Regions from separate parts of the Homo sapiens genome. Here regions 1, 3 and 4 are each linked to region 2. The links come from fine-mapping of genetic effects on gene expression. A gene starts in region 2. Each other region holds a variant in brackets. All regions are shown on one strand. Distances are between the middles of the regions. Region 1 overlaps TFDP2 (transcription factor Dp-2). Region 2 holds the start of ATP1B3 (ATPase Na+/K+ transporting subunit beta 3). Region 3 overlaps ATP1B3 (ATPase Na+/K+ transporting subunit beta 3). Region 4 holds the start of LOC105374134 (a long non-coding RNA gene).

What was found. PIP is the estimated chance that this variant, and not a neighbour inherited with it, causes the effect.
Region 1: its variant is the best candidate, but not a certain one, in a credible set for the expression of ATP1B3 in whole blood (INTERVAL, PIP 0.85).
Region 3: its variant is the best candidate, but not a certain one, in a credible set for the expression of ATP1B3 in blood mononuclear cells (TOPMed, PIP 0.64).
Region 4: its variant is the best candidate, but not a certain one, in a credible set for the expression of ATP1B3 in whole blood (TOPMed, PIP 0.57).

Annotation. Positions count from the first base shown.
Region 1 is chr3:141,940,301-141,948,262 of GRCh38, forward strand. It overlaps TFDP2 (transcription factor Dp-2), which reads right to left. Exons shown (of 13, transcript NM_001178139.2): 13 at 4,128-7,962. Among named protein-coding and RNA genes, the nearest start is that of ATP1B3, 68 kb to the left of the region's middle. The variant CT/C (reference allele first, on the strand shown) is at 3,782.
Region 2 is chr3:141,870,764-141,878,479 of GRCh38, forward strand. It overlaps ATP1B3 (ATPase Na+/K+ transporting subunit beta 3), which reads left to right and starts at 5,880. Exons shown (of 7, transcript NM_001679.4): 1 at 5,880-6,147. The coding sequence starts at 6,039. RefSeq lists silencers at 4,775-4,834, 5,705-5,834, 6,105-6,674.
Region 3 is chr3:141,902,219-141,906,218 of GRCh38, forward strand. ATP1B3 (ATPase Na+/K+ transporting subunit beta 3) reads left to right here. Exons shown (of 7, transcript NM_001679.4): 2 at 1,402-1,530. It also overlaps the pseudogene RNU6-509P. Among named protein-coding and RNA genes, the nearest start is that of ATP1B3, 28 kb to the left of the region's middle. RefSeq lists enhancers at 2,206-2,706, 2,707-3,207. The variant A/T (reference allele first, on the strand shown) is at 2,396.
Region 4 is chr3:141,850,850-141,858,811 of GRCh38, forward strand. It overlaps LOC105374134 (a long non-coding RNA gene), which reads left to right and starts at 700. Exons shown (of 3, transcript XR_924551.3): 1 at 700-816; 2 at 7,568-7,731. The variant T/A (reference allele first, on the strand shown) is at 4,755.

The DNA of each region.
Region 1 (7,962 bases), 70 kb after region 2:
GGAAATGGTTGGATGAATCACTGTGCCCCAGTGGCAAAAATGTCCTGAAGCAATTTGGATGAAAGTGAGAAAGTGGATATGACAAATGCTGCTCTACACTAACCGGATTGGTTGTGCCCCCACCACCCACACCCTCCCCAACTACAGGACTTCCTTCACCACTGTGCATTTTCCACTGAGATGCTCTCCTGAAAGCAAGTTTCAGCAAGAGGCTGGAAAGGCCTCTCAGAGAGAAGGCTGAGCTGGCAGTGATCAGGGAGCCCCCGGGCATTTGGCAGCCGTCCACAGTAAGACCGGCAGATGGAGCCTTCATCTGGCAAGAAACTGGGGAAGCTGGCGGTGTCGTCAGGTGCAAGCTTCAGTGAGAAGTGCCAGCACTCTGAGAAGATGCACAGAAATACAGAAGCAGCTCCCGTAGGAGAAGGAATGGAGGCCGCACGCGGTAGCTCACGCCTGTAATCCCAGCACTTTGAGAGGCTGAGGTGGGTGGATTACTTAAGGTCAGGAGTTTGAGACCAGCCTGACCAACATGGTGAAAACCCGTCTCTACTAAAAATACAAAATATTATCCAGGCGTGGTGGTATGTGACTGTAGTCCGAGCTACTCGAGAGGCTGAGGCAAGAGAATCACTTGAACTCAGGAGGTGGAGGTTGCAGTGAGCCAAGATGGTGCCATTGCACCTCCTGCCTGGGCAATAGAGCAAGACTCTGTCTCAAAAAAAAAGGAATGGAGAAAACATAGCCATAGCTCTGGGAGTAGGAACAGAAGCAAGCAAGCTGACTGCCAGTCGGGTTCTTTCTTCTGGAAAAGGCTCTGGGTTGAAGCTGTCTTCTCTCTGAGGCTCAAGAAGCTGGGCATGGAATTAACTCCGTCAACCAAAAATACAGTTCTAAGTCCCACCCCCCAACCATCTGAATGGACTTTCTCCTTGGCCAGGGCGCTCTTAAAATGTAACCTCAGAGACCGGTTCCGGCCAGGAACGGGAAGTGCCTCATTATACCCGCTGGCATTAACATCAACACAGACCTTACTGATAAGAATCATTTACCATCTATTCTCTGAAGCCTGCGACCTTTTCTCTCCATAATCCCTTATCTTAACCCAGACATTTCCTTTCTATTGATTCCAGGTTTTTAGATAAACTCAACCAATTGTCAACAAGAAAATTTGTAAATCTACCTATAAGCCGGAAGCGCCCCCCACCTTCGAGTTGTCCCACCTTTCTGGACCGAACCAACGTATTTTTTAAACATACTTGATTGAAGTCTCATGTCTCCCTAAAATGTATAAAACCAAGCTGCACCCTGACCACCTTGCACACATGTTCTTGGACCTCCTGAGGGCTGTGTCAGGGGCCATGGTCACTCATATTTGGCTCGGAATAAATCTCTTTAAATATTTTTGAAAATAGTTTGTCTCTTCGTAGACAATTCTGTGGGCTTGCAGGTATCGCCCCTGGTCAGCGGTGTATTCAGTCGCTGTGCCATCCCCCATGTGGCTACAAGAACAAAAGCACCTTCTTAAGCCCAAGAGATACAGTGGTTACTCCCATGAGTCCTTGGACACCTTCACCAAACGGCACTAGTAAGTGGCTCCTCTAGGCCGGGAGGAACGGAGAAGGCACAATACCAGCTTGGCTCACTACTCCAGGAGACCCCTGGGGTAAGGGGCTTGAGCACAGGCTCACCACTTCCCCACCACCGCCACCCTTATTTGGTCTGTGAAACTCCAGGGGGAGTCTTTATGGGAAGATGCATTCCTTCCAATATGTCATCGAGTGCTTACTTAGCCATCTCCTTTTCAAGACCTGGGTCTACTTGCTGGCCCCTGAACTGCTCCACACCCTTCTGTGCCTTCTGATTGTCCACGTGCTCAACTTGTTGGAACATAGGAGATAAGCTATCTAGGGTTCCGGCCTCTCCCTGAGACAGGTAGAGACTGCGTGATCAGGTGCTGAGGGGCTGCTATGTTCCGGAGGTCAGGTGACATTCCACCTGAGGCCTGGGGACATGGCATTCTATATTGACTGCTGTCGCTGTTCTCGCTGATGCTGGTTTGGTGTAAGAGATGATAAGAAAGCATCTTCCCTACGAATTGCAGGGAAGCAATTCTGGGCCTAGCCTCCCAAAGTGCTAAGATTACAGGGGTAAGCCACGGCACCTGGCCACCCTTCTTCTTTTTTTTTTTTTTCAGACAGAGTCTTGCTCTGTCACCCAGGCTGGAGTGCAGTGGCACTATCTCGGCTAGCTGCAAGCTCCGCCTCCTGGGTTCATGCCATTCTCCTGCCTCAGCCTCCCGAGTAGCTGGGACCACAGGAGCCCGCCACCATGCCCGGCTAATTTTTTTTTTTTTTTTTTGAGACGGAGTCTCGCTCTGTCACCCAGGCTGGAGTGCAGTGGGGCAATCTCCACCTCCCAGGTTCACACCATTCTCCTGCCTCAGCCTCCCAAGTAGCTGGGACTACAGGCGCCCGTCACCACACCTGGCTAATTTTTTTGTATTTTTAGTAGAGACGGGGTTTCACCGTGTTAGCCAGGATGGTCTTGATCTCCTGACCTCGTGATCCGCCCGCCTCGGCCTCCCAAAGTGCTGGGATTACAGGCGTGAGCCACTGCGCCTGGCCTATTTTTTGTATTTTTAGTGGAAACAGGGTTTCACCATGTTAGCCAGGATGGTCTCGATCTCCTGACCTTGTGATCCGCCCACCTCGGCCTCCCAGTGTTGGGATTACAGGTGTGAGCCACCGCGCCCGGCCCTGGCCACCCTTCTGAGGGCAATTCATGAAGAGGAACTCAGATGTTGAAAGAGGGTCTCAGTCCTTACTCTCTGGCAGAGCCCCAGAGTACCCACTACCCTCACCCGAACAGCCCACCATTATTTTATTGTTCATTTTTCTTTTTTTTTGAGATGGAGTTTCGCTCTTGTTGCCCAGGCTGGAGTGCGATGGCGCGATCTTGGCTCACTGTAGCCTCTGCCTCCTGAGTTCAAGCAATTCTCCTGCCTCAGCCTCCCGAGTAGCTGGGATTACAGGCGACCGCCACCACACCTGGCTAATTTTTTGTATTTTTAGTAGAGACTGGGTTTCACCATGTTGGCCAAGCTGGGCTCGAACTCCGGGCCTCAAGTGATCCGACCACCTCAGCCTCCCAAAGTGCTGGGATTATAGGTATGAGCCATTGCACCCGGCCTATTGTTCTTTTTTATTTTAATCCCAGCAGTTTGGGAGGCTGAGGTGGGAGGATCACTTGATGCTAGGAGTTGGAGACCATCCTGGTCAACATGGTGAAACACCATCTCTATTAAAAATACAAAAATAGGCCGGGCGCGGTGCTGCACGCTTGTAATCCCAGCACTTTGGGAGGCCGAGGCGGGTGGATCACGAGGTCAGGAGATCGAGACCACGGTGAAACCCCGTCTCTACTAAAAATAAAAAAAAATTAGCCGGGCGTGGTGGCGGGCGCCTGTAGTCCCAGCTACTCGGAGAGGCTGAGGCAGGAGAATGGCGTGAACCCGGGAGGCGGAGCTTGCAGTGAGCCGAGACTGCGCCACTGCACTCCAGCCTGGGTGACAGAGCGAGACTCCGTCTCAAAAAAAAAAAAAAAAAATACAAAAATAAGCCGGGTGTGGTGGCACGTGCCTGTAATCCCAGGTACTCCAGAGGCTGAGGCAGGAGAATCCCTTGAATCTGGGAGGTGGGGGTTGCAGTGAGCCAAGATTGCACCACTGCACTCTAGCCTGGGCAACAGAGACTCCATCTCACAAACAAAAACAAAAAAAAGG[CT/C]TTTTTTTTTTTTTTTGAGATGGAGTCTCACTCTGTTGCCCAGGCTGGACTGCAGTGGTGTGATCTCAGCTCACTGCAACTTCCGCCTCCCAGGTTCAAGCGATTCTCCTGCGCCAAGTTGCTGGGATTACAGGCGCATGCCACCACACCCAGCTCATTTTTGTAGTTTTAGTGGTGACGGGATCTCACCATGTTGGCCAGGCTAGTCTTGAACTCCTGACCTCAAATGATACGACCACCTTGGCCTCCCAAAGTGCTGGGGTTATAGGCGTGAGCCACTGCGCATGGCCTAACACCTCCTTTTTTAACTAAAAATATCCTGACCCACTAGTAATGAGACTAACATTATTTTAAAGTGTTTATTTTTTTCTATAATACATTTCATTCAAATCATAAAAGTCTGATACATTTTTTTCTCAAGAACAACTTACACTCATTTGAGATGCTTTTTCTTTCCTTTAATCTTATAGGATGGACAAAGATACACTTTAATGGACAAAAAACACCAGAGTTCATTACAAATACAGCTTCCCAGGCCCCACCTCCAGCACTTCTGACTGAGCGTCTGGGACGCATCCTAGGATCGCAAAACTGTAAAATTCCCCCAGTCAACTCCACGGCAGGCAGGCCTGGAACCACCCTTAGTGGAACACTGCTTAGGACTTGTCTGTTATCTACCAGAAGCAATTTCAGAAAATCAGGAGTAATTACGTATACAGAAATAGCTCTTCTATAAAATTTCCATATAAAAATAATGGCATTTATTTACAAAGTCTGAGATACTACAAAATAATATATCATATTAGGTTGTGTACTTCAATCTAATAAAGGAAAGTCTACATTGGGCAAGTCAGATGTGGTGGTTGCATTTTCCTCTTATCTCTCTTGTTTAAATTGCTTAAAGCATGTGGCACCACGATGTATCCTTCATGCAGAAAAAAGGAGAACTATATTTTCTGGAAATAAAACCCAATAGCACATAGTCAGAGTAAAGCATTTTCAGATGAAAAGGTGAACAACCTAGTGGTTTGGGCTCATGGCCCTTTACCCACCTTTTTTTTTTGAGATGGAATTTCGCTCTTGTTGCCCAGGCTGGAGTGCAAATGGCACGATCTCAGCTCATTGCAACTTTTGCCTCCTGGGTTCAAGAGATTCTCCTGCCTCAGCCTCCCGAGTAGCTGGGATTACAGGCATGCGCCACCACACCCGGCTAATTTTATATTTTTAGTAGAGACAGGGTTTCTCCATGTTGGTCAGGCTGGTTTCGAACTCCCGACCTCAGGTGATCCGCCCGCCTCGGCCTCCCAAAGTGCTGGGATCACAGGCGTGAGCCACTGTGCCTGGCATACCCACCTCTTTTGTCCAAAACTCAAGAGTGATGGTGGTGAACCAAGTGCGTGAAGGAACTCAGTACTGAAACGTGATCCCCGGAGTGCAGCCACCTGGGCAGCCAGTGCATATGGTTAGTGGGTGGTTCCATTTTTCAGGACACTGAGAGGTTGAACCTGCCATGGAACTACTGGGAAAACTAGAACTGCAACAAGCCCAGAGGAGCTATTCAGGAGAAAAGTAGCCCCATTGTCAGTGACGTTTTAGTATGAAAATCCTGGCCCCAGTGTGAACAAGCACAATCGCCAGGCCATGTGACATGAAGCTCGGCCATGGTGAAGTATGGTAAGTGACAAATGGCATGCATTGAAGCACGACAAGGGATGAGTTTTTAAATCCAAACGTGATCTGGGGAATTTTCCGTTATGATTCGACAGACATGGGCAGCACCAGCTGGTGTGGTGTGGAAGGACCAGTTGGTCACTGAACTTCTTGGGCCCCTGCCAATGGCCAGCATGGGGAGCCCTTGTCTGTGGAGGTCTCAGCCCGGGGTTTTCTGACTTGAGAGAGGCCTAAACCTGACACCACAGCCTCATGCTGGGGCTCGGGAAAGGAGTCCCACTTCTACCCCTCAGCTGTTTGGCACTTGGTGACACAGGACTGATGCTAATCCAAAACCCATCTGGGAGGACTGTGGTGACAGCGTGGCCCTCACGGAGGGAAGAAGCTCTGGGTTTTGGTGCAGGCTCTGCCACAGACAGGCTGAGGGATGGGAGGCAAGTCAAGCTCTTGCTTGTTTCCCATCTCTAAATGAGCAGGGTGGGAGCGATGTTATCCCCGATCCTGAGACCTGCGGCGAAGGGGCGAGGCCTGACCCTGAGCATCAGCTACGTTGGCCTCCAATGCAGCTATAAGCAGTGAAGACCAAAGTCTAACCTGCTGAAACAGCAAGGGGCAAGACAGCATTGACTTCAACAGGCCTTTTTTGTAAAGCAAAAGGTAAGATGACAAGATCCGGTCTTGTCTGAGAACAGCTGCACAGAATACACATTATAAATGAGCACTTTCTCCTATCTCAGCACCCTGGTGAATGGGTGTCAGAGAAGTTTCTGGACCTGTCAGGGACTCCCAGGGCTTAGCCAGAGGGTCAAAGTGTTGTGCCCACTCACTTTTTCTTCTTTAGCATACTGTGGAGTGAGACATGTGGGAAAATCGGATCCCAGAGATTACCTAAGCATCACTTCTCAGAGACGTTTTGGTTAAGGGACTACTTCCTGAGAAACGTTATAATTTATGTGGGTATTGAGCTTGAATTTTTTTTAATCATAAAATCTTAGGCTGGGCGTGGTGGCTCAAGCCTGTAATCCCAGCACTTTGGGAGGCCGAGGCAGGCAGATCACATGGTTAGAAGTTCAAGACCAGTGTGGTCAACATGGTGAAACCCTGTCTCTACTAAAAATACAAAAATTAGCCAGGCGTGGTGGCACATGTCTGTAATCCCAACTACTTGGGAGGCTGAGGCAGAAGAATCGCTTGAACCCGGGAGGCAGAGGTTGCAGTGGCTGAGATCATGCCACTGCACTCCAGCCTGGGCAACAGAGCAAGACTCCATCTCGAGGGGAAAAAAAATATTATGCAAACATCAGGTTTTTCTCTTCTTAGTAACCATGTTTGGCTTGAGTGGAAATTTAATCAAACACTGTTATCAACTGGGAATTTGAGGGCAGGGAGGCACATTGCTGAGGGTCATTCAAATGGCATGGTGCAGGCTCCTGATACATAGTGTGGGTCTTTGGGAAATGCATATTAGTTTTCATCAGTGCTTGGGGACCATTGCTTTGGGTGCATGAATATGGGAACCCATTTGGGAAAACGGTTCTTAGAAGTCCAGTCATCAGCTTCACCAAAGCCAGCCCATATGCAGAATACAGATGATCTCTTTGATGTAGCCAACAACTTAGAAACACGTAAAATAGTTCTCAATTTCTAATCATTTTTCTTTCTTTCTTTTTTCTTTTTTTGAGACAGAGTCCTGCTCTGTCACCTGGGCTGGAGTGCAGTGGCGGGATCTTGGCTCACTGCAACCTCCGCCTCCTGGGTTCAAGTGATTCTCCTGCCTCAGCCTCCCGAGTAGCTGGGACTACAGGCATGTGCCACCACGCCCGGCTAATTTTTGTATTTTCTAATGATTTTTCTACTGCATAGATTCAGTTGGAAAGTAGTGAATCTTTGTGACAATCTTCTCTTGGTTTACAGAAATTGCTGGTAGCTAACTTTGCTTTGAAGTCTTAAAAGTTCCCAAACAGACTCCAAAATGAAGGCTTGAAACTGGAACAGTGGGGCCTCTGGAACTTAGGAGAGATTCCAAGTGCATGTTATGGGACAGAGTGGCTTGTTAAGAAAGTATAGAGACATCTGTCTTTCCACCATCTGACTCAGTAAAACTGTCTCTTTCCCAGAGGGGCCTTTCCCAGCCACCCCCAGCCAAAGTAGCCTTTCCCAAACGGTCCCGCTACGCTGCTGCTTTCTCCACAGCACTCATCAATCAATCTGCACGTGTTCCATCTGTGATCAAGTTTCCCCAATAGGAGGAGAACCCAACATCGGCAGGGCTCTCGCTGCTCCGCCCCAATGCCTGCTCACAGTAGGTACTCAAATGCTTACTGAATGAAGGATGAAATCTTAAGATTCACTGTCCAACCCCCACCCCTTACTTACCACTAAGGCAGCACAGTTTTAAGGTCTATTTCAGACTTGTTGGGCAGGGACAGCCCATTTTGTTAGGGGAGGGAGCTTGATAGATATTAAAGGGCCCTTGAAAGGAAATAATTTTTAAAAAGCTAAATAGAGC
Region 2 (7,716 bases):
AGACTCCTGTTCTTACCTCTAGGCAATTTTCTTCTATTATTTCTCTCATTATATTCTCCCCTGAATTTTCTTGTCTTTCTTCTGAAAACACATAAAGTGTCAATCCAGGAACTATTAGTTGAATAGCATCCTTCCTGGATTAGCCCTATATGTGTTTGTACTTCTAAAAATATTTTCATTTCCTTTTGTCTTTCTGCTTTACGCTTTGGGGGATTCCATTGACTGCTCCATTCAGTCCTTATATTGATTTTTTAATTTTAGCAATTATATTTTTAATTTCCAATAATTTTCTTCATGTCACTGATTGTGCCTAATATATATATGTATGTGTATATATATGAGTGTGTATATAGATCTATACATACACATCTATATGTTGATTACATGTATATAATCAACTTATCTTATGGATAAAGTAGCTTAGATTTTGCTGTGGTCACTATTTAGAATACAAGAAAAATTCTCTTATGTCCCCAGAATTATCTGTTTCCTATGAGGTCAGCTTTTTAAAATATCTCCTTTTAAAAGTGTTAAATTTATACCTTCTTTTTATTTTTGAGACCGAGTCTCACTCTCAGCTCACTGCAACCTCTGCCTCCTGGGTTCAAGTGATTCTTGTGCTTCAGTCTCTCAAGTAGCTGGGATTACAGGCATGCACCACTACGCCCAGCCAAATTTATACCTTCTTTTGGTTGTTTTTCAAATAAAAGAACCACAAAAATGTGTATCAGGAAAATTGGCCATCCTTTGTCCCCAATTTCTTTTTCACATCTTCTCCAATTTTTAAAAGCATTATATTATGAAAAATTCCAAGCATATACAAAGCAAATATAGTATAATGAACCTCATGTACCCATCACCTGTTGACCTAAAAGGAAGAAGCTTAGGCAAAATTAATGTAGAGAGTTTATTTAGGCCAAGGTTGAGAAGTGCAGCCCAGGACACATTTCCAGGTTGTCTTGGCGAGTGCTTCAGGGAACAAAGGAGAGGCTCAAGTTTTTAAAGAAAAAAGGATGAATCAGGAGAAAGGGACAATTGCAAAAGTTGTTCATCAGGAATGCATTGGTTTACAGAAATGAAGTGGCTTCAAGAGATAATGATTTAGTTCAAGGAAGAGTTTCATTCCATGTGTTTAATTTCAATGCCTCTCTGGGCCTGATAATTTAAAGGGGCTAGTCTTCCTCACATAAAAAACTTCTTTTTGGCCAGGCACAGTGGCTCACATCTGTAATTCCATATTTAGGGAGGTCAACTCAAAACTATCGCTTGAAGTGAAGCCAGAAGTTCAAGACCAGCCTGGGCAACATAGTGAGATTCCCATCTCTACAAAAATAAAATAAAAATTAGCCAGATGTAGCCGGGCCCGGTGGCTCACGCCTGTAATCCTAGCACTTTGGGAGGCCAAGGTGGGTGGACCATGAGGTCAGGAGTTCGAAGGAGTTCGAGACCAGCCTGGCCAATAGAGTGAAACCCTGTCTCTACTAAAAATACAAAAATTAGCTGGGCATGGTGGCACGCACTTGTAGTCCCAGCTACTCAGGAGGCTGCAGCAGGAGAATCAATTGACCAATTGAACCTGGGAGGTGGAGGTTGTGGGGAGCCGAGATTGCACCACTGCTCTCCAGCCTGGACAACAAGGCGAGACTCCATCTCAAATAATGATAATAATATTAATAATAATAAGTCAGGTGTGGTGGCATGCCTGTAGTCCTAGCTACTCAGGAGGCTGAGGGAGGAGGATCACTTGAGTACAGGAGGTGGAGGCTACAGTGAGCTATGATTGCACCACTGCACTCCAGCCTGGGAAACAGGGCAAGACCCTGTCTCAAAAAAAAAGTTTCTTCTTTTTTTTCACACACCCAGCTTCAGTAACTCAACATTCTGCCTTTTTTTTGAGACAGAGTCTTGCTCTATCACCCAGGCTGGAGTGCAGTGGCATGATCTAGGCTCACTGCAACCTCCACCTCGTGGTTCAGGCAATTCTCCTGCCTCAAACTCCCGAGTAGCTGGGATTACAGGCGCCCGCCACTGTGCCCAGCTAATTTTTGTATTTTTAGTGGAGACGGGGTTTCATCATGTTGGCCAGGCTGGTCTTGAACTCCTGACCTCGTGATCCGCCCTCCTCGGCCTCCCAAAGTGCTGTAATTACAGGCTTGAGCCACCTCGCCCGGCCTACTGTAGAGGTATTAATGGTATTGGGTGGTGGAGGAGAGGTGGGTATTTGAATCCAGGTGCTGTCATTAGCTAGCTTCTTAACCATGGATGAGTTAATTTCTCTAATTTCAGTAACTGTAATTAGAGAATTAATTACAAACTTAATTACGATTTTGTAAATGTAATTCCCTCATTTACAAAATTAGGGAAACAGTACCTCCCCATTAGGGTATTTGTAAAGACTGAGAAATAAATCACACTACGCAAGTAGTACAGGGCCTGGGACTTACTTAATTATTTATAAGAGATCATTATTATTACTGTGGAATTCCTAAGTATCCTCTACAGGTAGGGCTGTCAGATTTAGCAAATAAAAATACAAGATAGGCTGGGTGCAGTGGCTCATGTCTGTAATCCCAGCACTTTGGGAGGCCGAGGCGGGTGGATCACCTAAGGTCAGGAGTTCGAGACCAGCCTGGACAACATGGTGAAACCTTGTCTCTACTAATAACACAAAAATTAGCCAGGTGAGGTGGCACATGCTTGTAATCCCAGCTACTTGGGAGGCTGAGGCAGGAGAATCGCTTGAACCCAGGAGGCAGGGGTTGCAGTGAGCCGAGATTGCGCCATTGCACTCTAGCCTGGACGACAAGATCAAATTCCGTCTCCAAAAAAACAAAAACAAAAACAAGATTTCTAGTTAAATTTGAATTTCAGACAGACAAGAATAATTTTGGGGGAGTAGCTATGTCCCAGATATTGCATGGAATGTATACCAAAAAAAATCCATCATCCATCTGGACTTAAATTTAGGTAGGCATTCTGTATTTTCTCTAGCGAAGTAACTTCTCCTTCAAAGGAGAAACTTAGAGTAAAATAAACTGACAGAGAATGTAACTGTAATTAAATGTTATCTGCTCATACTTGGTAGACCAGTGGTTCCCAGTACACACAGGATTTTCTCTTCCAGGTAATGCTCAAGTTACCATATATCAGAGAAACAAATAGCTTCCATGTTTTGGAGTAGAATGTAAAAATTTCACCAAACTGAAATCTGTTGGACCTAGTTACTATACTGAACTAGTCATGTGTTTCAAAACTGCTTACTGAATTATATATTTGTATTTAAATCCTTATTTGGAAAACCACAAAGCACTAAATATGAAAGTCATATTAATGACCATTAAACATATACAAACTAACAGGCTGGGCGTGGTGGCTCATGCCTGTAATCCCATCACTTTGGAAGGCTGAGGCGGGCGGATCACCTGAGGTCAGGAGTTCGAGACCAGCCTGGCCAACATGGTGAAACCCCATCTCTACTGAAAAATAAAAAAATTAGCTGGGCGTGGTGGCGTGCGTCTGTAATCCCAGCTACTTGGAAGGGTGAAGCAGGAGAATTGCTTGAACCCGGGAGGCAGAGGTTGCAGTGAGCCAAGATCCGAGCCACTGTACTCCAACCTGGGCGACAAGAGCAAGACTCCATCTCAAAAAAAAAAAAAAAAAAAAAAAAAAAAAAAAATATATATATATATATATATATATATACACACACACATACACAAACTACAAATCCTTGACAGCAGCCAATATCTTTGAAACACTATTTCATAATATTCTTGTTTACCACGTTTTCTTTGTGTGCCAGGTGATTAGTTATCAAAGCACGCTTATTATTAGCGCACACACACATACATGCACACACACAATGTAAATGAAGCGGACAGGTTTTGTTTCATTCTAAATATCTTTCTTTCTTACCTAAATGAAAAAGCCTGTTATCAACTCTACCAGTATTTTAGGTTTCCTCTAACCTGTAGTTATATTTGTAATGAGTTGAAAATAGTTAACTACTTCCATTCTTTTTTTTTTTTTTTTTTTTTTTTTTTTTTTTTTTTGAGACGGAGTCTTGCTCTGTCGCCCAGGCTGGAGTACAGTGGCGGGATCTCGGCTCACTGCAAGCTCCGCTTCCTGGGTTCACCCCATTCTCCTGCCTCAGCCTCCCGAGCAGCCGGGACTACAGGCGCCCGCTACCACGCCCGGCTAATTTTTTTGTATTTTTAGTAGAGACGGGGTTTCACCGCGTTAGCCAGGATGGTCTCGATCCTGACCTCCTGATCCGCCTGCCTCGGCCTCCCAAAGTGCTGGGATTATAGGCGTGAGCCACCGCGCCCGGCAGGTAACATTCTTTAGTTCTTTCAATCTTGCCTATGATTTAAAGAAGTGCATTCCAGTCTGCTTGCATGGTGCTTTGCTATTTCTAATACTCATTTCATGCCAAACTCTCCAACATGCTTCTACAAATCTTTTGGTGTCATTAGCTCAAAACGTAAATGGATTTTGGTTATTTTCAATGTCATAATTATAAATTTAGCTTTTTTAAGCGTGAAAAAAGCACTTTATAGGAATATATTTTACCACTTTTCCATTTGTGGGAGGTATAATTCATTATTTCTTGCTTTGGTAAGAAAAGTGAGGAAAAAGGAAAATTCATCCATTTGCAGGCTGTTTAAACTTCCAGACAGATTATAATTCATCACTCCAAACAATAAGATGGCTATTACATTTCTCCATAATTTTTATTTGCTAATAAAACGGAGGCAGAGCTTTTTTCTAAAAATAAATAAATAAACAACAACAACAACAACCTCCCCCACCCCGCACCTTCTGTGCAAATTCCTATAAAGTCTTTTATCCTGTCGCTGAGTCTGAGGGCACCCCCCCTCCCGTACTCGTCAGCTCCATCTCGCGGAGGAAAACGCTACCGGCACCCTCAGCTCCGCCCAAGGGCCGCGATCTCTACAGGGGAGATGAAAAGCCGGCGACACTACACAGGCGTGGACCCTCCAACGAGTGTTCCTTTCCTGTGGGTTAAGAGTAGGAGCGTCTGGGCAAAAGCTGGGAGCTTTCAGTTGCCAGGACCCTTGGGAAAGCACGTATTTAGATTTCATTGATAAATTCAACTGAATCCCGAGAAAAATTATACTCCATTCACTGGCATATTTAGAACGGAATTCCCATTGACCCGAGGCTCCCGGTTGAACCCTTCAAGGGAGCCAAGCGAGGACGTTCTCAGAACAGCAGTGCACCGTGTACATTGTGGGAGCCCCGCGCGATCCCCCGCAGAGCGTCCTGTAGGAACGTCACAGAGCCCAGAGAGCGTCCTGTAGGAACGTCACAGAGCCCAGAGAGCGTCCTGTAGGAACGTCACAGAGCCCAGAGAGCGTCCTGTAGGAACGTCACAGAGCCCAGAGAACGCCTGGGGACGGTCGGGGAGGCAGTTCGGGGAGGGGACGATTAAGTTCCCTCAGAGAGGAAGCCGCGGGCCGACTGGAGTCGTTTTCGTGCTCTCCGCACCCGCCCGCCGCGGGTAGCATCTTCTCAGCGCCCCGGCGCCCAGGAACGCCCAGGAAACCCAGTCCTCCTCCTAAGCAACCTGCGGCGCGGGGACGCCCGCCTTTTGCTATTATTATAAACGTGCGTGCGACTAAACCTTCGGATTTTTAGACTTTCTTCTCGCTTCCTCTGACCCAGGCTGAGGGAGCCCCCGAGGCTACTGCGGGGCGGGGCCGGGGCGGGGTGGGGCGCCCTCGCCGCCTCAGGCAGCGCCCCGGCCGCTGGCGGGAGGCGGCAGCGGCGCGGGCCGAGCGGCGCGGGGATTGGCTGCGGCGGGCGGAGACGTCAGGCTCCCGCGGCCCAAGCGGCCGCCCGGCGCGGCGCGGCGCAGTCGGCTCGAGTACTCCCCGTAACGAGGAGGTGTTCTCGGCCGTCCCACCCTTCACTGCCGTCTCCGGGCTGCGCCGCCGGAGCCGGGACGCGCCTCCGCAGCCCTCGCCGCCTCCATCCCCGCGGCCGCAGCTCCTCTCGCCGTCCGCGCGCACACCATGACGAAGAACGAGAAGAAGTCCCTCAACCAGAGCCTGGCCGAGTGGAAGCTCTTCATCTACAACCCGACCACCGGAGAATTCCTGGGGCGCACCGCCAAGAGCTGGGGTGAGCGGGCAGCAGCTGGGCGTCCGGGGCCGGCCTCGGTCCCGGGGGCGCCGGGCGCGGTCTGGTGGGAACGGAAAGGCGGGAGGCGGCTCCCAGCGCCGGGGCTCCCGACCGCCCGACCCTAACCCGGGCGGCGGCGGCGCAGTGCGGCCCCATTCATTGCTCCCCGGGCCGGCCGGACTGGCCGCAGCTCGCTCCCGAAGCAGCGGGGCCCGCGGGCAGCCCGGCCGGGCCGCGCTGGTTCCTCCCTCCCTGCTGGGAGCGGGGCGCACGTGCTGCCCGGGCCTCCCGCCCGGCGCGGCGCCGGAAGCCGGGGACCCCTGCCCGAAGCCGGGCCCCGAGAGTGCAGGAGCCGAGCCCCCGGGCCTCCTTTGTACGGAGCGCTCCGGCCCGAGAGGCCCTGGCGGAGGCGCCCGGCCCGCTGAGCGGTTCGGAGAAGCCAGACCCTGCCCCACTCCAGGGGAGAGGAAATTTCCACTCCCGCCGCTATCTTGTGACTCGTCCACGCTGCCACCCCGACCGGTCGGAAGAGTGCGACTGAGTGTTAAGTGTGGGTGTGGGTTGCTTAAACGTGTAGCGGTGAGTTAATCACAGAAGTACATTGTACAAGAAAATGCACTTGAATTTGGACAGTGAAAAGGCCCTTAAAAAGGTTGGTTCCTCCCGGATTCCTTTTTAATTACAGAGGTTTTCTTCCTTACAAATTTGCTTCTTTGGGGAAAGTAAATCCTGTCTGAACAACACAGGTTTTTTTTTTTTTTCCCGTGTCTTCAAAACAGGAGAGTGATGGTTGTATGTTAGCAGATTTTTTCTATGCGTGAGCTCTTTGTTTTAATATATTTAAACCATCTACCGTGTAGAGTAGCTTTAGGATGCCTTTTTTTCCTAAAATTGTATCAATCTCTGAATGCAGGCTAGAGCTTTTTTTTTTTTTTGCCTTTATACTTAAGTAAACTAATTTTACCTTTTTAAATCCTTTTGAAACATTTTGTTAGTGGGTCTTGAAAGACCATTTCTTTCTGAGTGGGAATAAATCTCGAGAGCTTAGAACTATTTGGGCACAACATTTTTAGGATAAGCATGGAGAAATAAGCTGTGACTCAGAAAATAAACTGTTGGTGCAGACTGAAATGGACTCCTTCAGGGTGAAAAGGCGACTTGAAGTCTTATCACAAGCTGAAAGGGGCCTTGGAGGATTTTTAGCCCAACCCCCACTTTAGAGATGAGAAAAATGAGACCCAGAGAGGTTGTGATTTTTGCCTTGTGTAAAATTACATATGCCACAAAGCCAAGAAAAGAACCCAGTTCTCCTTTAATCCTAGTCCAGCGGTTGTATTATTTTACAGATGCCTTGCCTAACTGCATGGTAATCACTCATGATTTTTATTTAAATTGCTGTTTTCTTTTGGGAACCCACTAGTGTGATGAAGAAATAAATCTTGCATCCAGACTTACATGGGAACAAAAGATGAACATTTATAAAGCTTAATTGCTTGTTTCTAGAGTGTACTAACTTTTTGCTGAAGAAATTTTTGAGTGGTGGAGAGAGATTAATTTTGATAGGCTACC
Region 3 (4,000 bases), 30 kb after region 2:
GGCCACCTGGTAATTGGGGGGGAGGGGTAGAATGCTAGTCTAAATTATAAAATGAAATTGCTTTAACTATTTCCCCTTTACTTGAAAAAGGGGGTTGGGGGTGATTCCTGCCTTGCAGTTGAGAAATAAAAGTTATCTAGCTTTCAGCACAATCTGTTTTGGGGTCATGGGATCTTTTGAGAATCAGAAGAAAGTTGTGGAGCCACTCCCTGGGGGGAAAATATATTCAGAAATATATTATTACAGAAATGAATCTTTGATCAGTTTTTAAACCTTGAAATACAAGTGACTTTACCAATGTATTCTAATATACTTGTTGGCAGCCACTTCTGATGTTAGAACTTTGAATATAGACATTTGAGAAAAATAATTGATTTTAAGTGTTCCCAAAGTAAATCACTGGTTCAGGATAGATCTATCTTAGTGTTCCCAAATTGTGAAAGGAAAGAGATTAAGCCCTTAATGTTGAAACGTGTGTCTCCCAAATCTTGCTTTGTGCTTAGCAGTAGAGCTATGAAATTCCATTGATCAGAGGGCTTGTTTCTGACCTTGTCCTTTTTTCACTTTTGCACGAGCCCTGCCATTTGACCAGTGTGTCCTAAACTTTATTCATTGAGTGCTGTCTTCATAAGTTGGCCTTATCTGCACATTTCCTGATATTCTTTCAATGAACTCAGTTTTTAAAATATATATTTTTTTAATTTTTTAAATATGGAACGACTCACAAATTTGCATGTCATCCTTGCACAAGGGCCATGCTAATCTTCTCTGTATCGTTCCACTGTTAGTATATGTGCTGCCAAAGTGAGCACCTAATTTTTTTGTAAAGACAAAGTGTTTCCTGGGCTAGTCCCAACTCCTGGGCTCAGGCGATCCTCCCATCTCAGCCTCTCAAAGTGCTGGCATTACAGGTGGGAGCCATTAACTCACTTTTTAAAACTTAAATTTAAGCAAATAATTACTGTCTGTGAAATATGCGTTTCATGTACTAATTCTTTTATATTCGCCACTTAAAGGATCATGTAAATATTGGGGGTTTTGTTTACCTAAAACCATCTTGTATCTTTTTAGAGGGCATCAAGTTCATTTTGGGAAACATTCCCCTATGTACTGGAATTTTAAAGCTTTGATTTTGAACCAGAGTATGAATGGTGGAAGCTGCTTTAACTTGGAAATACCAGGGAAAAGGAGGGGTCATGGGATGGGTGGGTGCTGTCTGCTGAAATACCCCTTGCTTGGGCAAATTTATGTGTCCTGAATATGAGGATATTTGGCTATGTGCATGGCAAAGCTTGGGATCGTACCCTTGCAAGAACAGTTGGTTTGTTTTTTAACCTGGCCAAACATGCATACACACACACACGCACGTGCACATTTCATAAGTTTTATTTTCTTTTACAGGTTTGATCTTGCTCTTCTACCTAGTTTTTTATGGGTTCCTGGCTGCACTCTTCTCATTCACGATGTGGGTTATGCTTCAGACTCTCAACGATGAGGTTCCAAAATACCGTGACCAGATTCCTAGCCCAGGTAATTATCTTGCAGTTATGACTTTGTTTTTTGTTTTTTGTTTTTTTTTTGAGACAGAGTTTCACTCTTGTTGCCCAGGCTGGAATGCAGTGGCATGATCTTGGGTCACTGCAACCTCTGCCTCCCAGGTTCAAGCGATTCTCCTGCCTCCTCAGCCTGCTAAGTAGCTGGGATTACAGGCATGCGCCACCACGCCCGGCTAATTTTGTATTTTTAGTAGAGACAGGGTTTTTCCATGTTGGTCAGGCTGGTCTCGAACTCCCGACCTCAGGTGATCTGCCCCGCCTTGGCCTCCCAAAGTGCTGGGATTACAGGCGTGAGCCACTGTGCCTGGCAGTGGTTACGGCTTTTAACAAAATTGAGTTATAGTTTATCTTCACCATAAATCTGTTTTATATAGCAGATAGAAGATAGCTAAACCTTGGAGCTGAGTAATGTGAAGGTTTTAATTTTTGTTGTTGTTGTTTAATATTTACATACTGATTTAAAGACCTTCACATTTATATACTGATAAATCTTGAGAGTTTGAGTGGGTTTGTTTTGTTTGTTTCGGTTTCTTTTTTTTTTTGTCAGAAGTAAGCAAATGAATATTGAGAATTCTAGTAAAAGCCACGTTTGAAGAATATAGTTATAGTTATGAGTGACTTATGAGTATCGTAGAGCAGTTTTACTTTGCCTTGAGTAATTAAGGTATATATTTTGGCACTAGCTTCAGTTAGAGCTTTGGACTTATAAAATACATACTTTGTCGTTCTAAATGGTTAGTTATGAAATTGGTAAGTTGTTAAATAATGATACCTCATAGAGAACAAAATGAATATACTCTTCATATGTTTAATTCTTCTTGATTTTCTTCTGGAAAAAA[A/T]ATTCATTATACAGGAGAATGTATGCAGTAAAAAACTGAAACATCTAAACCACATTTTCTACCTCCTGATTTTATTCTTTTTAAACAGTCTTTTTTTTTTTTTTTTTTTTTTTGAGACAGGGCTTTGCTCCTGTTGCCTAGGCTGGAGTGCAATGGTGTGATCTCGGCTCACTGCAACCTCTGCCTCCCGGGTTCAAGCGATTCTCCTGCCTCAGCCTCCCAAGGAGCTGGGATTACAAGCATGTGTCACCACGCCCAGCTAATTTTTTGTATTTTTAGTAGAGACGGGGTTTCACCACGTTGGCCAGGCTGGTCTCGAACTCCTGACCTCAGGCGATCCACCCGCCTCGGCCTCCCAAAGTGCTGGGATTACAGGGGTGAGCCACCACACCTGGCCTAAACAGTCTTTGAATGCCAGCTCTCCCTTGGTGACTGGACATGACCCTTGTCCTCAGATGCTGATAATTAGAAAAGTAAGAAACAGTAATGTGCAGAACTTCAGTGTGTATAATTCCAAAGACTGTAAACTAACTGCTATAGATGACAGAGAAGGGAAGGTTCTACCTAAAGAAGAAAGTTCAGTCCTAGAGGAGTGGGATTTAGAGGGCAGGAGAGTGGGGAATCGGGCCAGGAAGGTGGGAGTCTAGCAGGTTTCTCTCTAGAGCAGTGGTTTTCAACCACTGAGTCATATGGCAGCGTCTGGAAATATTTTTGGTTGTTACAGCTAGAGAGGTGGTACTGTGAATAGAGGCCAGGGATGTTGCTAAACATCCTACAGTGCATAGGGCAACCCCCACAACAAAGAATTATTCAGCCCAAAATGCCAATAATGCTGAGATGGAAGTGCCCTTATCTAGATCCTTGCTCACTGTATAGACTTCTGAGCTATATCACCAGCCAAACTGAACTAATTGTCTCAACCATTTTTTTTCCTAGAACAATTTTTTTCTAATGATTTCTTTTGTTTACAGCTAATCTTAGTCTAAATGTCTTGAATAACTCTTTTAAAACTCTTAGTGTATTGGAGCAAGTGTCAGAGATTAGTTCCATGCTACTTTTCCTTCATCTCTCATTGTAGCACTGTTTTTTTCTACCTCAGACTAATTCTAAGATTATTCTTTACTTGCTATTTAAGTGATGTGACTTACCATTGAACATAGTCTGATCTATTCAAAAACACTGAACTCTGTTTATAATTGCATGAAATATATAAGCATATGTGTTAAATATTTTTAAGTACACAGTTTTTAAACTGAGTTTCTTAAAATTATTTGTCGATTATTTTAGTACTTAAAGTATCATTAGTTTAAATAAATATACATGCATACACATGTACATATAATACATATATATTACATATGGGACATATTAAACATTTCCTTATTTAATATATCACATGTACATGTAATACATATATAATATGTATTTATGTGTTGTATATTATATACATATAATATGTATTATATGTACATGTGTGATATATTAAATATGGGAATGTTTGAAGGCTAGAGAAAATTTTAGGATTGTTTTAAAGCCTATGTGCAAGGTTGAATTAATCTAGATCTAATGCTTTTTTTTTTTTTTGAGACGAAGTCTCGCTCTGTC
Region 4 (7,962 bases), 20 kb before region 2:
GTATTTTTGACGTAAACTTAACATTTGAATTGATAGGTGCTGTTAAGTGTAAATTACACACTAGATTTCAAAGACTTAATATGAAAAAAAGATACAAAATACCTCACTTATAATTTTTATATTGATAACATGTTGAAATGATATTTTTAATATGCTGGATTAAATAAAATGTACTATTAAAATTAATTTTACCTGTTTTTTGTTTTTGTTTTTGTTTTTGAGACAGGATCTCATTCTGTTGCCCACCCTGGAGTGCAGTGGTGCGATCTCAGCTCACTGCAGCCTCCGCCTCCCAGGTTCAAGTTTTTCTCCTGTCTGTTTCTGAGTAGCTGGGGTTACAGGCATGCACCACCACGCCCGGCTAATTCTTGTATTTTCAGTAGAGACAGGGTTTTGCCATGGTGGTCAGGCTAGTCTCGAACTCCTGACCTCAAGTGATCTGCCCGCCTCTGCCTCCCAAAGTGCTGGGATTACTGGTGTGAGCCACCGTGCCCAGCCATACCTGTTTCTTTTTGCATTTTTAAATATAGCTACTTGAAAATTTAAAATCACATATGTGACTTGGCTTCCATTTCTACTGGACTGCGCTGTTCCAGGGCCTTATAACACTCCATTGCATCCTCTCCATCTGGCTAGCAAATAATGAGAGAGCAAGCAGAGGACTGCAAATCCCTTTGTCCAGAACTCAGTCATGAAGCCATTGTTACAAAGGAGAAGTGCATATGTAGCCTGCCCGGAAAGGAGAGGAAACAGATTTGGTGAGCAATGAGCTGGCCTCCGGCACAGGTCCAGGGTAGAATGACAACATTGTTGGAGGTGAGGTGGTCAAGGCACTGGCAGGCGGGGCATTTGGAAAGACTGTTTGTGAAGTCACCAAGAATCTGAAGTGACAGGGAATGGAACTCTTCAAGGAATTCAGAGCAGTGACCCGAGTCTACAGTTGATTCAACAAAGCTGAATATTTAGTAAATATTCAGATGACAGCTTCAAAGCTGAAAGCTTTGAAGAAGAGAGGAATGGTGGTCTTGAAGCAGCAGTTGGGAGAAATGAGTATACCTCCTTCACCTCCAGGCCAGTGGTCCAAGATGAGTAGGGGAGAGAAGAAAGGCCCCATTTGAAAGGGTGTCTGGGGAAGAAGTGTCCTTATGGAGAATAGGTTTTAGTGCATGACCTTAACCAAGTTATTTAACCATTCTGTTTGAGGTTTCCTTGGTTTAAAATAGGGATAAGAATAACACTTATCTCATAAGGTTGTTGTATTAAATACTGAAATACAGATGCTCCTCAACTTATGATGGGGTTACGTTCCAATAAACTCATGGTAAGGTGAAAATATCATAAGTCGAAAATGCACTTAATACACCTAACATGCAGAACATTGTAACTTAGCCTAGCCTACCTTAAACGCAATCAACATTCTTACATTACCTGCAGCTGAGCAACACAGTTTATGGTGTGGCTGACAGGGACTGGCCCAGCTTGTCAAAAGAGTATCATACTGCTTTCTACTGAACGTATATCACTTTCATGCCATCTTAAAGGTGAACCATTGTCAGGGACCGTCTCTACCTGCAAAATATTTAGCATGTCGAAATGGCTATGTTAAATAATTTCCTGACATTGTACTAAAAGCACGCTGGTTTCTCCTTTGTTTTTTGTTGTTGTTGTTGTTGTTTGTTGTTGTTGTTTTTTGTTTTGAGACAGAGTCTCACTCTGTCATCCAGGCTGGAGTGCAGTGGTGCAATCTCAGCTCACTGCAACCTCCACCTTCCAGGTTCAAGCAATTCTCCTGCCTCAGCTCCCCAAGTAGCTGAGATTACAGGCACGTACCACCACGCCCGCCTAATTTTTTTGTTTGTTTGTTTAGATGGAGTCTTGCTCTGTTGCCCAGGCTGGAGTGCAGTGGCACTATCTCGGCTCACTGCAAGCTCTGCCTCCCGGGTTCATGCCATTCTCCTGCCTCAGCCTCCCAAGTAGCTGGGACTACAGGTGCCCGCCACCACGCCCGGCTAATTTTTTTTTGTATTTTTAGTAGAGACGGGATTTCACGGTGTTGGCCAGGGTATTCTCCATCTCCTGACCTTGTGACCCGCCCGCCTTGGCCTCCCAAAGTGCTAGGATTACAGGCATGTGCCACCGCACCCGGCCCTAATTTTTTGTATTTTTAGTAGAGACGGGGTTTCACCATGTTGGCCACGCTGGTCTTGAACTCCTGACCTCAAATCATCGACCCACCTCAGCCTCCCAAAGTGCTTGGATTACAGGCGTGAGTCACTGTGCCTGGCTTCTCCTTTGTTTCTGTCTTCTTCCTTCGCGTATTAATTTTCCTTTGTGTGTGCCTTCAATCTGGCGTTGCTCTTGGATAAATGAAGCAATTTATTAGCTTTGCCCTTATTCTAGGACATGATGCACTGGCAAAATTCACTGGGTCCATGTAAATTTATGTTGCCACTCAGAAGAAAGTGGTCAGCTTGGATGTAATGTGAAACTGATGTAATCTTAGATAATAGTTTGAGAAAGAAACACACATTTCTTCCTATAAATAGAATACAAATTTCATTTTCAAAAGGAAAAAGCTTTGTGTGTGAAGAGGGAAGTTCTGGAAGGAGGGTGTGGCTACTTTCCAGATTACAGTTGATACAATTGCACAGACTTTTTCTATTGCCTAATAGAGACTTGTCTATGAATGGCAAAATGAGGAATGATCCATTCTTTTACACCATTTCCAGAACAGTGCCCTGAGAATCAACTGCTTCTGTTAACGCTGTCTGTGGTAAGATGTCTACGCAGAAAACCCTAGGAATAACAATTAAGTTAGTGCTCTGTATTACGGTTTGCTTTCCAGAAGTGACACTCCACAAATCCCTCTCAAACCTCACACCAGAAACTCAAGAGCTCACCAGACCTTCCTCTGAAATATGACTGTGCCAGGGGCCTGATGCTGGGCAAAGGGTCGGGCTGGGGAAGGAGGCAGGTGATTCTTCTGTTCGCCATGGCTGGATAAAACCAGCACACCCCAGCCTCTCAGAAAGCTTCATCCTGTGCATAATTTGTAAAAATTGCTTAGTTACTTGGTCTTAGAGAGGGGAAATCTGATGCCTTGTGATGGAAATTTGGAGTTTCCATCCACGCCTGGCCTGCCGAGGAACTCTGCTGAGCAGTGGCTGCACCTGCCAGGTCTGCCTGTTAACCTCACCGGCGCTGCATGTCCGTATTTAAAAATTGGAACTGAATCTACAGCGCTCAAGGCATTTTCAGAACATGAAACATTTTTGATGTAATCATTTTTTAAAAGTTTCTGCAGGGCACAGTGGCTTGCATCTATAATCCCAGCACTTTGGGAGACTGAGGAGGAGGATCACTTGAGCCCAGGAGTTTGAGACCAGCCTGGGCAACATAGTGAGACGCTGTCTCTATGAAAATAAAAATAAAAAATTGTTTTCAAAGTTTCACTTACATGCTGCCTTTTTTTTTTTTTTTTTTTTTTTTTTTTACGGAGTTTCACTCTTGTTGCCCAGGCTGGAGTGCAATGGCATGATCTCGGCTCACTGCAACCTCCACCTCCCAGGTTCAAGCAATTCTCCTGCCTCAGTAGCTAGGATTATAGGCACCCACCACTACACCCGGCTAATTTTTGTATTTTTAGTAGAGATGTGGTTTCACCATGCTGGCCAGGCTGGTCTCGATCTCTTGACCTCAAATGATCTGCCCGCCTCAGCCTCCCAAAGTGTTGGGATTACAGGCGTGAGCCACTGTGCCTGGTCCACATGGTGCTTTATATCATCTTCACGTAGGTTCTCATCAAACCCCTGTAAAGGATGTTTTCTTGTCCTTGTTTTACAGATGAGGGAGTTGAGTCTTAGAGGATGGTGTCTCTCCTAAGGTCACATAGTCACACATAGTCATAGAAAGGCAGCAGAGGCTGGGTCATAAGGACCCTCTGATGTCACATCCTATGCTCTTGTACAACACCCATCCTCTCTTGTAATTAAAAACTAAACCAAACCAAAATGAAATTAAATACTGCTTCCTCATCTAGCTAATTTTGTCACAGAATCACTGTAACCAGTGATTTGGAGTAAATGGCACCTAGTTTCTCCACTGGGAGGCAGCCATAGCCACCAGTGGCTCCTGTGTTCTTCCAGATATATTCTGTGTGTAAAATTTTAGACGTGCACATCTAACGCAAATGCAAGCAAACTGCCCTGTAGGTGGTTTTTTTTCACTTTAGATTTTCTCAATGATTCTTCTGTATTAGTTATCAATAACTTAGAAGAGGGGAGTGGATTTCTGAGCCTGATCCTTACAACTTAAATTCAAGAGCCTAGCCATCATTCCCTCCGCCTTATACTGAAAACACCTACAGTAGTTCTCTATTACTTACAACATCCCATCTAAATGTTTAGCCAGGAATTCAAAGGCATATATAACCTGGCCATAAAACACCGAAGTTTATATTCCTATAATCCTATATAAAACTCTGTCCTCTCCTGCTAGTGCTCCCTATCCCATGGGCTGGGTACCACCCTCCCAACCCCATCTTCATATAATAAATTACCACCCAGTCCTCAAGGCCTTACTCCAACCCCATCTCTTTCAATGTAACTCCCAAGACCTCTACAGCTAGAAGGGCTTCCTTCCTCTTTAGAGTCTCAGTAGTGCTGATCGCTTGATAGTTAATATTTATTGTCAAATTATCTTTTTTTTTTTTCTTTTTTTTTAGACAAGATCTCACTCTGTCACCCAGGCTGGAG[T/A]GCAGTGGCCCAATCTTGGCCCACTGCAACCTCCATCTCCTGGACGCAAGTGATGCTCCCACCTCAGGCTACCAAGTAGCTGGGACCACAGGCACATGCCACCACACCCGGCTAATTTTTGTATTTTTTGTAGAGATGGGGTTTCACCATGTTGGCCAGGCTGGTCTCGAATTTCTTTTCTTTTCTCTCTCTTTTTTTTTTTTTTGAGATGGAGTTTCACTCTTGTTGCTCAGGGTGGAGTGCAATGGCCTGATTTCAGCTCACCACAACCTCCACCTCCCGGGTTCAAGCACTTCTCCTGCCTCAGCTTCCCGAGTAGCTGGGATTACAGGCATGTGCCACCATGCCCAGCTAATTTTTGTATTTTTAGTAGAGACGGGGTTTCTCCATGTTGGTCAGGCTGGTCTCGAACCCCCGACTTCAGGTTATCCACCTGCCTCGGCCTCCCAAAGTGCTGAGATTACAGGCATGAGCCACTGCGCCCAACCCTTTTTTTTTTTTTTTGAGACGGAATCTCATTCTGTTGCCCAGGCCAGGGCACAACAGTGCAATCTCGGCTCACTGTAACCTCTGCCTCCAGGGTTCAAGCGATTCTCCTGCCTCAGCCTTTGGGGTAGCTGGGACTACAGGCACGTGCCACCACGCTCGGCTAATTTTTGTATTTTTAGTAGAGATGGGGTTTCACCATGTTGGCCAGGCTGGTCTCAAACTCCTGACCTCAAGTGATCAGCCTGCCTCAGCCTCCCAAAGTGCTGGGATTACAGGCATAAGCCACCGTGTCCGGCCTGGTCTCGAATTTCTGAGCTCAAAAGATCCACCCGCCTTGGCCTCTTTGGTGCTGGGATTACAGGCATAAGCCATCATTCCTAGCCCTATTGTCCCATCATCTTAACAGTAAATATTTGTTAACTCAATGACTATTCCCAAATGGGTTATTTTTATTTTTTAGAGACAATGTCTCATTGTGTTGCCCAGACTGGTCTCAAACTCCTCTGAGCTGAAGTGATTCTCCTGCCTCAGCCTCCTGAGTAGCTGGAACTACAGGTGTGTGCCACCACAGCCTGGCACCAAATAGATTGTTAATCACTGAAGGTGTGCAACTAGTTCTTTATCTGACCTACACAGTGTGTTGGCTTGAAGGGGCATGAGCTGGTGAAGCAGTTTGGCTGTTTAAGTGAACAATGATGATTTTGGGGTGATTCTTTCTAAGAGCTAACATTGCCTGTGGCCCCCTGTTCTTTGGATTGCTACAAGAAGGGACAAATCAGATTTCTGTTGTACACAGTGATGTACTGTGCCGCTCTCAGGCAGACTGTGGCTGTCATCCTGCCTATCTGTCTTATGTTTTCTCCCCTTTTAATCATTTCTAGGGACTTACTGAGTCCAGTGACTTTGGTTCCTGTGCTTTTGTTTCCCCATGTGAAGAATTCTACTAGGATTAATAATTTCATTGGGGAACGGACACGGTGGCTCACACCTGTAATCCCAGCACTTTGGGAGGCCGAGGTGGGCAGATCACGAGGTCAGGAAGTTGAGACCATCCTGGCCAATCTGGTAAAACCCTTCTACTAAAAATACAAAAATTAGCTGGGCATGGTGGCACGTGCCTGTAATCCCAGCTATTCGGGAGGCTGAGGCGAGAGAATTGCTTGAACCAGGGAGTTGGAGGTTGCAGTGAGCCGAGATCGCGCAACTGCACTCCAGCTAAAAAAGAAAAAAAAAATCATTAGGGATATCGTAAGAAAGACTTTGAACATCAAAAAAGAAAAATGATTGTAGTTGATTGAAACACATCAAATCTCCAAAAATCCAAAGTCTATAACAGTAAGAGAAAGCTTGTGTGTCACCATTTGAAACAACTGTTTACTTTGAAAGTGGATAACGAGGGAGAAGTAGGCATTTATCCTGCCTTTGCAGTAGCAACTCTACTGCAGAAACCAAAATAATCCCAGATGACAGGGGAAAACTCTACATTTATACATTTATAGGTTACATTTACATTTATACCGTTACTTTACACTGAAAGAATCATTTGTAGTACCTAAGGAAATTATCAATTCAGGCAAGGATTATCAGTTGACCTTAAAGCTCTAAGAATGGGAAACTGGTTACTGATGCTGTACCAAAGTTATACCACTTGGGTCACTTTCTGGTCATAGGAGATGAAAAACATAACTATATGATGGAGGCCTGGTCTCTTAAAAAAATCAGTGTAATAAGACAGTTAAATAATAATAATAATAATTAAATAGAATATGAGGTTCTGGGTTAGTTCATGATCTGTACAAACCAGCTATAAAGGACATTTGGAAGCCAAATGAAGAAATTTGAGTATGTATTAAGTATTAGATAATATTAAGAAATTGGGCCGGGCATGGTGGCTCGCGCCTGTAATCCCAGCACTTTGGGAGGCCAAGATGGAGGAATCACAAGGTCAGGAGATTGAGACCATCCTGGCTAACACGGTGAAACCCCATCTCTACTAAAAATACAAAAAATTAGCCGGGCATGGTGGCACAAGCCTGTAGTCCCAGCTACTTGAGAGGCTGAGACAAGAGAATCGCTTGAACCCTGGAGGCAGAGGTTGCAGTGAGCTGAGATCGTGCCACTGCACTCCAGCCTGAGCAACAGAGCAAGACTCCGTCTCAAAAAAAATAAAAAAAGAAATAAATGTTAATTTTGTTAGATGTGAAAATGTTATTTTGGCTATATAGGAAGACATTTAACTCTTTAGAAATGCATACTGGAGAATTTAAGACTGTATCAGGAGATTACAAGAGATTTATTTCTCCCTCGCTCCATCACCATCCCAGGTCAGCTGTCACTCTCCTTGTTATCTGCAGTCTGGTGTGCAGGCTGAAGAAACAGCCCTGTGTGGGACACTGCTGGTCTTCTGGTAGAAAGAAAAGAAAGATGATGGAATCACACTGTGATTCAGATTGTGGGCTGCACTTCCACTTACGTTTTATTGGCTAAAGTAAGTCACATGGTAAAGTCTTGTATCAGTGGGGGTAATTTTCCCACAGGGTTGGGCAGTAGGATTATTTAGAAGTCAGTGACAAGGAGGACAAAGCATCTCAAACACTGAGAAATAACAAAATTGTTTATCAGGAAGAAAATTATAATGTTAAATCCAGATGTTAAAAAGCAAGAAAGATTGAAAATGAGTGAACTTAGCTTTCAACTCTAGAAACTAGAAAATAACAAA